Linked DNA regions of Homo sapiens. The protein of the gene in region 1 purifies or fractionates together with the protein of each later gene. This does not show direct contact. Each region holds a gene or a part of one and is shown in the gene's direction. Other genes may lie near its edges. The genes, in order: RGS12 and NBEA.

The links.
Region 2: the proteins of RGS12 (region 1) and NBEA purify together in Homo sapiens (affinity purification with mass spectrometry; one large-scale study listed by BioGRID and IntAct). This does not show direct contact.

What each region holds. Positions count from the first base shown.
Region 1 is NC_000004.12:3,291,709-3,296,127, forward strand, and holds the start of RGS12 (regulator of G-protein signaling 12), read left to right. Parts: upstream 1-1,312; 5' UTR 1,313-1,391; intron 1,392-1,816; exon of another isoform or gene 1,817-3,196; intron 3,197-4,419. UniProt on the Homo sapiens protein: Regulates G protein-coupled receptor signaling cascades. Inhibits signal transduction by increasing the GTPase activity of G protein alpha subunits, thereby driving them into their inactive GDP-bound form.
Region 2 is NC_000013.11:35,155,169-35,158,977, forward strand, and holds part of NBEA (neurobeachin), read left to right. Parts: intron 1-605; coding exon 606-687; intron 688-914; coding exon 915-1,038; intron 1,039-1,909; coding exon 1,910-2,102; intron 2,103-3,809. UniProt on the Homo sapiens protein: Binds to type II regulatory subunits of protein kinase A and anchors/targets them to the membrane. May anchor the kinase to cytoskeletal and/or organelle-associated proteins.

The sequences.
Region 1 (4,419 bases):
AGCTCCTGTTAAGTATCTCTCTCTCTTTGTCTGGCTTCCTGTAACCGCTCTGGCCGCGCTCCTTCAGCCCTGCAGGTGAAAACAGTTCCCTCCCTGCTGTTACCTGTCCCAATTCAGCACCGCCCTGTGGCTTCCCGGCTCCCGGACCGCGCCTCTGCCAGCGGGAACCCTGCTGGACTCTTAATTAATTGTCCCACTGAGAATGCCATTGGTTTCCTCCTGGGATCCAAACTAATCACACAAGACTAGATGATGGAGAGCTGCCAAGAAACCATGGGGCGGTGGCGGGGACGGAGGGGAAGCGTTTTGAGCCCATCAAGGCAGGTGACAGGAAAGAAGCAAACCCGAGAGGGGCCGAGTCCCTGGGCGGGCGGCAGGGCTGGAGCGTGAACAGCAGCGACGGATGCGTCTCGAGGGAAAAACGCGGCGGGAGAGAATGAGGGGAAGGCAGGAAGGAAGGGGCAGGGAGACCCAGCGCCGGGGAAGGAAGACACGAAGAGGGCGAGGAAGGAACTCCGGCCTAAAGGGTGAAGGCGGCGGCTGGGACAGGGCCAGAGGCGCAGGCCGGGGCCGGGCAGCTCCTCCTCTCGTGCCAGCGGTGCCTCCGGTCCCGCCCTCGCTGCTGCCCGCGCTCCGGGAGGGGCAGACCCGCTGGACGCCGCAGTCACCGCGCCGCCTTCGCGGGCGTCCCGGGGCCCGGAGGGAACGGCCTTTCCTGGCTGTCCCCGTGGCTTCGCCGCGGGAACTCACGCCGCCCCCGAAGCTGCCGCCAGCTCCGGGCATCTGCCCAGCCGAAAAGCCAGGGCGCCGGGGCCTGACTCCCCACAGCCAGGTTTCCCGGGCACAGAGACCCAACGGGAGCGGGACTTCCTCGGACACCGACGGCGAAGGACAGAGACAGCCCAGGCAGGGGCGGCTCCTCCCGGCCACACCGACCTGCCCTTCGCAGGGTGTCCCGGGCCAGCGGAGGCAGAGAAAACCAGCTTGCGGGAACGCAGTCGCTCCCAGCACCAGGGCCGGGCCAGTGCGGGTACACACCGTGCGCACCAGCGCCGCCGCGCCCCCAACGGAAGTCCCGCCCCCGGCCGTGGAGGCCCCGTCCCTCGCTTCTTCTCATCCCTGCTTCCCTGGCAGTCCCGTTACCACGCTGTCCCGACGCGAAGGCCCTCGCCCCGCCCCGTGCCCCGCCCCCGCATCGCCCCGCCCCAACCCCACCCCCTTGGCCCCGCCTCACCAGGTTCGCCCCGCCCCTCTCCGTCCCCGCCCCTCCTCCGGCCTCGGCCCCGCCCTCGCCTCGACCCCGGGGGGCGGTGGCTGCCGAGGCGACCGTTGCGCGCGCGGGCGGTGGCGCGGGCCGAAGCGCCCGGAGCGGGAGCGAGCGGCGCGGCCCGGTAGGTGTGCGGGGCCGGGGCCGGGGCGGGGGCAGGGCGCGCCGCCTCCGCTCTTTCTTTCGTCTCCGGGGCGCGCGCCCGCGCCCTCCGCCTCCCGGCCGATCCCGGCCAGCCCTGCGCGGCGCCCGTCCCCTCGGGGTCGCCGCCCGCCCGCCCTGCCTTTTGTTCGCCGGCCTGACTCAGGCTCCTGGTCCCGGGCCCGGCGCGGGGCGGGGCGGGGCGGGGGCGGGGGCGGGCGGCGCGGGGCGCGGGCCTGTGGGGCCTCCGGCCGGGCGGGTGCGCGGCCTCCTGGGGCCCCGCGCTGTGAGGCCCGCCCGGGCCCTTGGCGGGACCCGCGGGGGCGGCGCCGGGCAGGGGGTCCCGCGGGCGAGATGCGCCCGGGAGCGCTGGGAGGGTTCCCTCGTCGGACTCCACGAGCGGCCGCTTTGTTAGGGCAGAAGCTGCCTTCCGAGACCCGAACTCCAGACGCACTGCAGCGACCTGGGGTCGCCTCAGCCGCGGTGCCGCGATTGTGCAGTGTAGACAGAGGGGTCCCAGAGCCGTGCGGTGTAGACAGAGAGGGGCCCAAAGCTGTGGAATGGGGACAGAGAGGGGACCCAGAGCTGTGGAGTGTAGACAGAAAGGGCGCCCAGAGCCATGGAGTATAAACAGTGGAGTGTAGACAGAGAGGGGGCCCAGAGCTGTGGAGTGTGGACAGAGAGGGGGCCCAGAGCCGTGGAGTGTAGACCGAGAGGGGGCCCAGAGCCGTGGAGTGTAGACAGAGAGAGGGCCCAGAGCCATCTAGTGTAGACAGAGAGGGGACCCATAGCTGTGGAGTGTAGACAGAGTCTCATAGCCGTGCAGACAGAGAAGGGGCCCAGAGCCATGGAGTGTAGACAGTGGAGGGTGAACACAGAGGGGGCCCAGAGCCGTGGAGTGTGGACAGAGAGGACCACCTGGCCTCTCACCTGCTTGGTCACTTGCTGGGAATGTGTCCCTGGGCAGGTGACCACCTTCTCTGTGCCTGAGTTTCCTCATTGGACCTGTCTTTGGAGCTGCTGCAAGGGCTAAGAGTGTCTTTGTCTGAAGTCCTCAGCGTGGTCCATGCCGTCCTGTGCAGGGCCCTTCTGAGGCCACAGGGACGTGCAGGATGGCCGGCAAGGCCTGCACAGAAGGGGCGCTGGGGGGCCTTCCCAGGCAAGGCAGCAGCCCCACCATTCACAGCAAGGAGACTACCAAGGAGGGCAGAGAGGCGGCTTTGGGCAGCAAGGGCTGCTGGGGTGGAGTCCTGCTGGCCTTCCCCTAGAGAAGGCGACGTGGGGAGGGCAGAGCAATTCTGAGTAAGGGAGAACCAGTTTATATTTCACTTTAGAAAGTAATTGTCACAGTGCGAAGTTTCTTCCCCTGAAAAAGCGATATAAAAAGGTCCATCGTGGCCAGTGCTTTTGGGGACTTGAGATGATGGGTATCCGGTGCCCGGGCCCTGCGTGGTGCCTCAGCTGGATGCTCTGCAGGTGGGGGAGGCCATGTTGGCTGAGGGCAGGGGCTCAGGCAAGGGCAGTGGGGTGGCTGAGCCTGCACAAGTTGGTGCACCCCTGTCTGGGTCTTTTTCTTAAAACTGCAAGTCCAGCCTTATCTCTGAGACCTCCTGAGGCTGGAACCTGCCATCAGACAGGCTTACAGTTCTAGCCCTGGTAACTGCAATGATGCGGATGCCTCTGTGACTGGCAGAGCAGAGGGAGGAGCGACAGGGCAGTGGTGACCGGAGGTCTCAGGGAGGTTGACAAAGACAAGGGCGGAGGAAAGGCCCCTCACGTGGACTGGAGGTACAGTACTGACCTGTGGAGTGCTCAGGAGAGGGCAGGGGTGGCGCGGCCTGAGGGCATGTCCTGGGGAGGGTCAGGAGGTGGGAGGGAGGCACTCGACAGGCACTGCAAAGAGGAGGGAATCCAGGGTCAAGGGCTGGCTCCCTTTCTGCCCTGTTTAGGATGAGGGTCTCGGGGAAGAAGGGGTGGCCAGGCCGAGGAGACCTGTGGCGCTGGGAGCTGGGACTCAGTGAGGTCCTGGAGGTGGTGAGGGCCCAGAGGTGACAGCTGGTGACCCAGCCGGCCTGGCTGCTGCTGTGGGAAGGTCGGGGGTAGAGGAGATGGAGGACAGGCTGAGGCTGCCGCTAGTCAGCGCTTCCGGCTGATAGAAGGGGGCTGAGTGGGCTCTGCAGGCCTGGTTGACAGTATGTGGATCACATTGACTTTGGACCTTTATTTTTGTCTGAGACTGACCAAGCAAAATAATCAGGCTGGGCTGGGTGCAGTGACTTAACGCCTGTAATACCAGCACTTTGGGAGGCTGAGGCAGGTGGATCACCTGAGGTCAGGAGTTCGAGACCAGCCTGGCCAACATGGTGAAACCCCGTCTCTACTAAAAATACAAAATTATTCGGGTGTGGTGGCAGACGCCTGTAATCCCAGCTACTCGGGAGGCTGAGACACAAGATTCGCTTGAACCTGGGAGGCGGAGGTTGCGGTGAGCCAAGATTGCGCCATTGCACTCCAGCCTGGGTGACAAGAGCAAAACTCTGTCTCAAAAAAAAAAAAAAAAAAAAAGCTCCATCTCAAAAACAAAGACAAACCAACAACAACAACAACAAAAAGCAGGCTGAAGGAATAAACAACTCATTAGTTACGACTTAACACATGCAGGGCTTCAAGCACACAAAATCCTAAAGCCCAGACCATTTTACATTTTATTTGAATTTGGTGGAATTCCTAGAAACATTTCCCTTCCCAGTTGTATGAGTTTCCTATTGCTGTGTAACAAAGCACCACTCACTTAGTGGCTGAAAATGGCAAAAGTTTATTTGCCCTAGTTGGGCTGAAACTGGTGTCATCGTCAGCTGGCCAAGCTCCCTCCCGAGGCACTGGAGGAGAACTGTTGGCCCGCCCCAGTCAGCTTCTGGAGGCTGGAGGAGAGCCGTTCACCCCCCTGGTCAGCTTCTGGGGGCTGGAGGAAAACTGCCCCCCTGGTCAGCTTCTGGGGGCTGGCCTCATTC
Region 2 (3,809 bases), on another chromosome or scaffold:
ATAATTTTAGGAACACTGAAAAGGCATTTCAAACAATAAATTCATTAATTTCCTAATCTTTCCTTCTATAGATACTGGTTCTGGTTTTGTATGTATAAATAATAAATAAAATTTGGTGAATACAGAGTTAAAGAGTTTAGAAGTATGTGGAATTCATTAAAAAGTCTCTTTAGGGCTGGGCATGGTGGCTCACACCTGTAACCCCAGCACTTTGGGAGGCTGAGGCGGGTGGATCATCTGAGGTCAGGAGTTCGAGACCAGCCTGATCAATATGGTGAAACCCTGTCTCTACTAAAAATACAAAAAATTAGCCAGGCGTGGTGGCACATGCCTGTAATCCCAGCTATTTGGGAGACTGAGGGAAGAGAGTCACTTGAACCCATGAGGTGGAGGTTGAAGCCAAGATTGCACCATTGCACTCCAACCTGGGCAACAAGAGTGAAACTCCGTCTTGAAAGAAAGAAAGAAAAAAGTCCCTTTAGAAGAGATGTTTCTTTTGGTTTGGACTGCATTGACATTTCTTTTGCAGGTTCATTGTATATCTATATTTTGCAATTATTATTTAAATTGTTTTCTAAATGAAGTTCAAATTCTTCATTTTTCAGATCTTGACAGAACAAGTATGTACTCAGGTCGTACACAAACCACATCCAGAGCCAGATTCTACAGTGAAAATTCAGAATCCAAGTGAGCAAATGGCAGTTCTTTACTGTATTGTGGTAGGCGCATGGCAACATATGAGACTAAATCAAAACTTTTCCTAACCCCTTAAATCATTATGGTGTTTACCTAGTTCATGACAGTTTTAACTCACCTTTTATAGTGTTAAGTATTTATTTGAAAGTTGGTAATACTTTTTGAGTTGAACATAGGATATGGTTACAAATCTACAAGTTTTTTTTCTTTGTTTACAGTGATTCTTAAAGTGGTGGCAACTTTGTTAAAAAACTCTACACCAAGTGCAGAGCTGATGGAAGTTCGTCGTTTATTTTTATCTGATATGATAAAACTTTTCAGTAACAGCCGTGAAAATAGAAGGTAAGCAGTTTGGATACTGTAACAACACTTTATTCCATAATTAATATTTTCTCTCTTTTAGATTTTCAATTCATTTCAAATCTTTTCCATATTGCTAAATACTTTTAATCATCAGAAAAGGCATTTTATGTTTCTTTGACATAATCTGTATTCGGTATTCTTCTATTTATTTTTATATTATTTTTATTTTGTTACGTGGATATTATATTTTAATTGTATATATGAATATACATATAAACAAACTCTTATTTAGAATGTAATATCCCTTTTAGTGGTACCTATCTATCACCAATGGAACTTTCAGTTGTAATTGTGTTGGATTTCCCCATTTTCATCTATGCTTTCCACCCCATATTTCTTATGGCCGAATGTTGTGCATTTTTAAGCTAGTTAGCTTGAACATGGGGTAAAGTCTGAGGCCATGAACTCTGGGGTAGTCATTGCCTGAGTCTATAATTTAACAAATATTGATTGAGTGCCTACTGTGTTCAGTGTAAGACTTTGTGCTACACAAGATAGTCTTAGTACACAGTCTCAGTACATTCCAGTGGGAAACCATAAAGCAATGATTAATGTATAATGTGTTAAGTACATTGTGAGTGCTAAAGGTGGTGAGAAAGTAGAGAAGCAATAAGTAAATCTGACTGTGAAAGTTAGGAAAATGATTTTGAATGATAATTAGGATTTTTCCTGGTAGAGAAATAAGAGAAAGTCATTCCAAGTATAGAATATATAACGTGCAGCATGACTGTACACCTTGCTTTACTGAGGTCAGATCATATTTTCACTATTTTATTTATCAAAGTTTCAAAATAGTAAATTCTAACTTAATTTGGATATTTTTAATGAGATCAAATTTTTTTCTCCCTAGATGCTTATTGCAGTGTTCAGTGTGGCAGGATTGGATGTTTTCTCTTGGCTATATCAATCCTAAAAATTCTGAGGAACAGAAGATTACCGAAATGGTCTACAATATCTTCCGGATTCTTTTGTATCATGCAATAAAATATGAATGGGGAGGCTGGAGAGTCTGGGTGGATACCCTCTCAATAGCCCATTCCAAGGTAACACGGGATTTAACATTTTAACATCATCAGAGTTATTGCAGTGGATTAAATGGCTACAAACATGCATCTGGTGCCATCTTGTGGGCATCTTAGATTTTGACAGATTCCTGTATCTCAGTTTTGTATTTTTCCCTCATTGTTCATAGACTGTTAGAACTTGAAAGTGGCTTATAGATGAATTAATTCAAACCCCAAATTTATAAATCAGGAGTTTTATACCCAAAGCTGACATACATCTGTTTTATAGCAAATCTGGGAACTTTAATCTGAGCCACTTGCTCTTTCAACTGGTTCTTGGAAGAATATTTTATGAAATAGTCTCTGAAATATACTTTTTAAGACTTTTTTTTAAGAAGTCAGATTTTTTTATTTCCAAGTGAATCATAAATACAGTGTTTAAGTTTAGTGGTATTTTAATTGCTTTATCTTTTCTTTATTTTTAATCTTAAAAATCTGTATGTCTATTTTAAGTATTATTTGATCTTTGGTAAAATGAAATAGTGAATTAAACTGTACAAGTATATACACATTAGATTCTGGAAATTCAGAGTTATGGGTTTCTCATCATGAAGTGTTATAGAAGAAGCATGGGTGTCAGAAGTATGGCTTTTAATTTAGTCTGTGCCATAATTGAGTTTTGTGATTTTAGGAGACTCATTAAGTCTTCTTGAACACGAGTTAGAAAAAAATGTTTAAAAGGATAGATAGTAAATATTATAGGCTGTGTGGGCTCTATAGCCTCTGATGCAGCTACTCAACTCTGCCGTTCAGTGTGAAAGACAATACATAATGTAAATGAATGATCATGGCTTTGTTTGAATAAACCTTTATTCACCCAAAGAGGTGATAAGCAGTTTTGTCCCATGGGCCTTATGTTACCAACCCCCACTTTTGGGACTTGCTTTCTTCTTCTGTAAAATTAAGGGGATTTTTGTATTATGAGATATTCTTTAAAGGATGGTCCCCCCAATCTAAAATTCTGTTAACTTATTTAAATATACATTAATAGAACCCATGTCTGTAAGAGAAAGTCTGTGAACTTTAAAAAATATTAGAAAAGCTTTTGTTTCAATTATAAATTTACATTTTGTGAAGTATTGACACCTCAGATTTATCATTGCTTTAACAAATTTGAAAATAGCAAAGAAAAAGACATTGCAGGTCTTTGTGCAAAAAAAAAGTATTCTGATTATTAATAAAGAAGCCTAAGTAAAGTAACAAAGCCAAAACAGCTTATATAAGGATAAAACTGTGATATTTTAATAGCTTGTAAATTTATATATTTAATGATATGTGTGAATTTTTTAACATCAGTTGTTGGGAAGGGTGCACATATGAGCAATAGATGGTGAAAACCAACATAGTAATAGTACTTTGGTTATTGTATATTATTAGCTGCTTATTCTCTGTTTAAGCTTACATAAATGTGTGGAAGTTAACTGGCATATTTGGTTTGGGTAACATTGAAATACTTAGCCTAAAAGAAAATAGCTTTTAATATTGCTGAGTTATCTGTGTGATTTTGGCAATCCTTATAATAAATCATATATAGCTGTATTTGTTGATTATTTCCAGTTACTTAATGAAACTAAGCACTTGCTTTAGGACTAACAAATGCCAGCTTTGAAGTCTTAAACTTTCTGGCATTATTTTTTCTATTTCCACAATTTAATTTGTATTATTTAGTTTTTTCTTTTTGATATG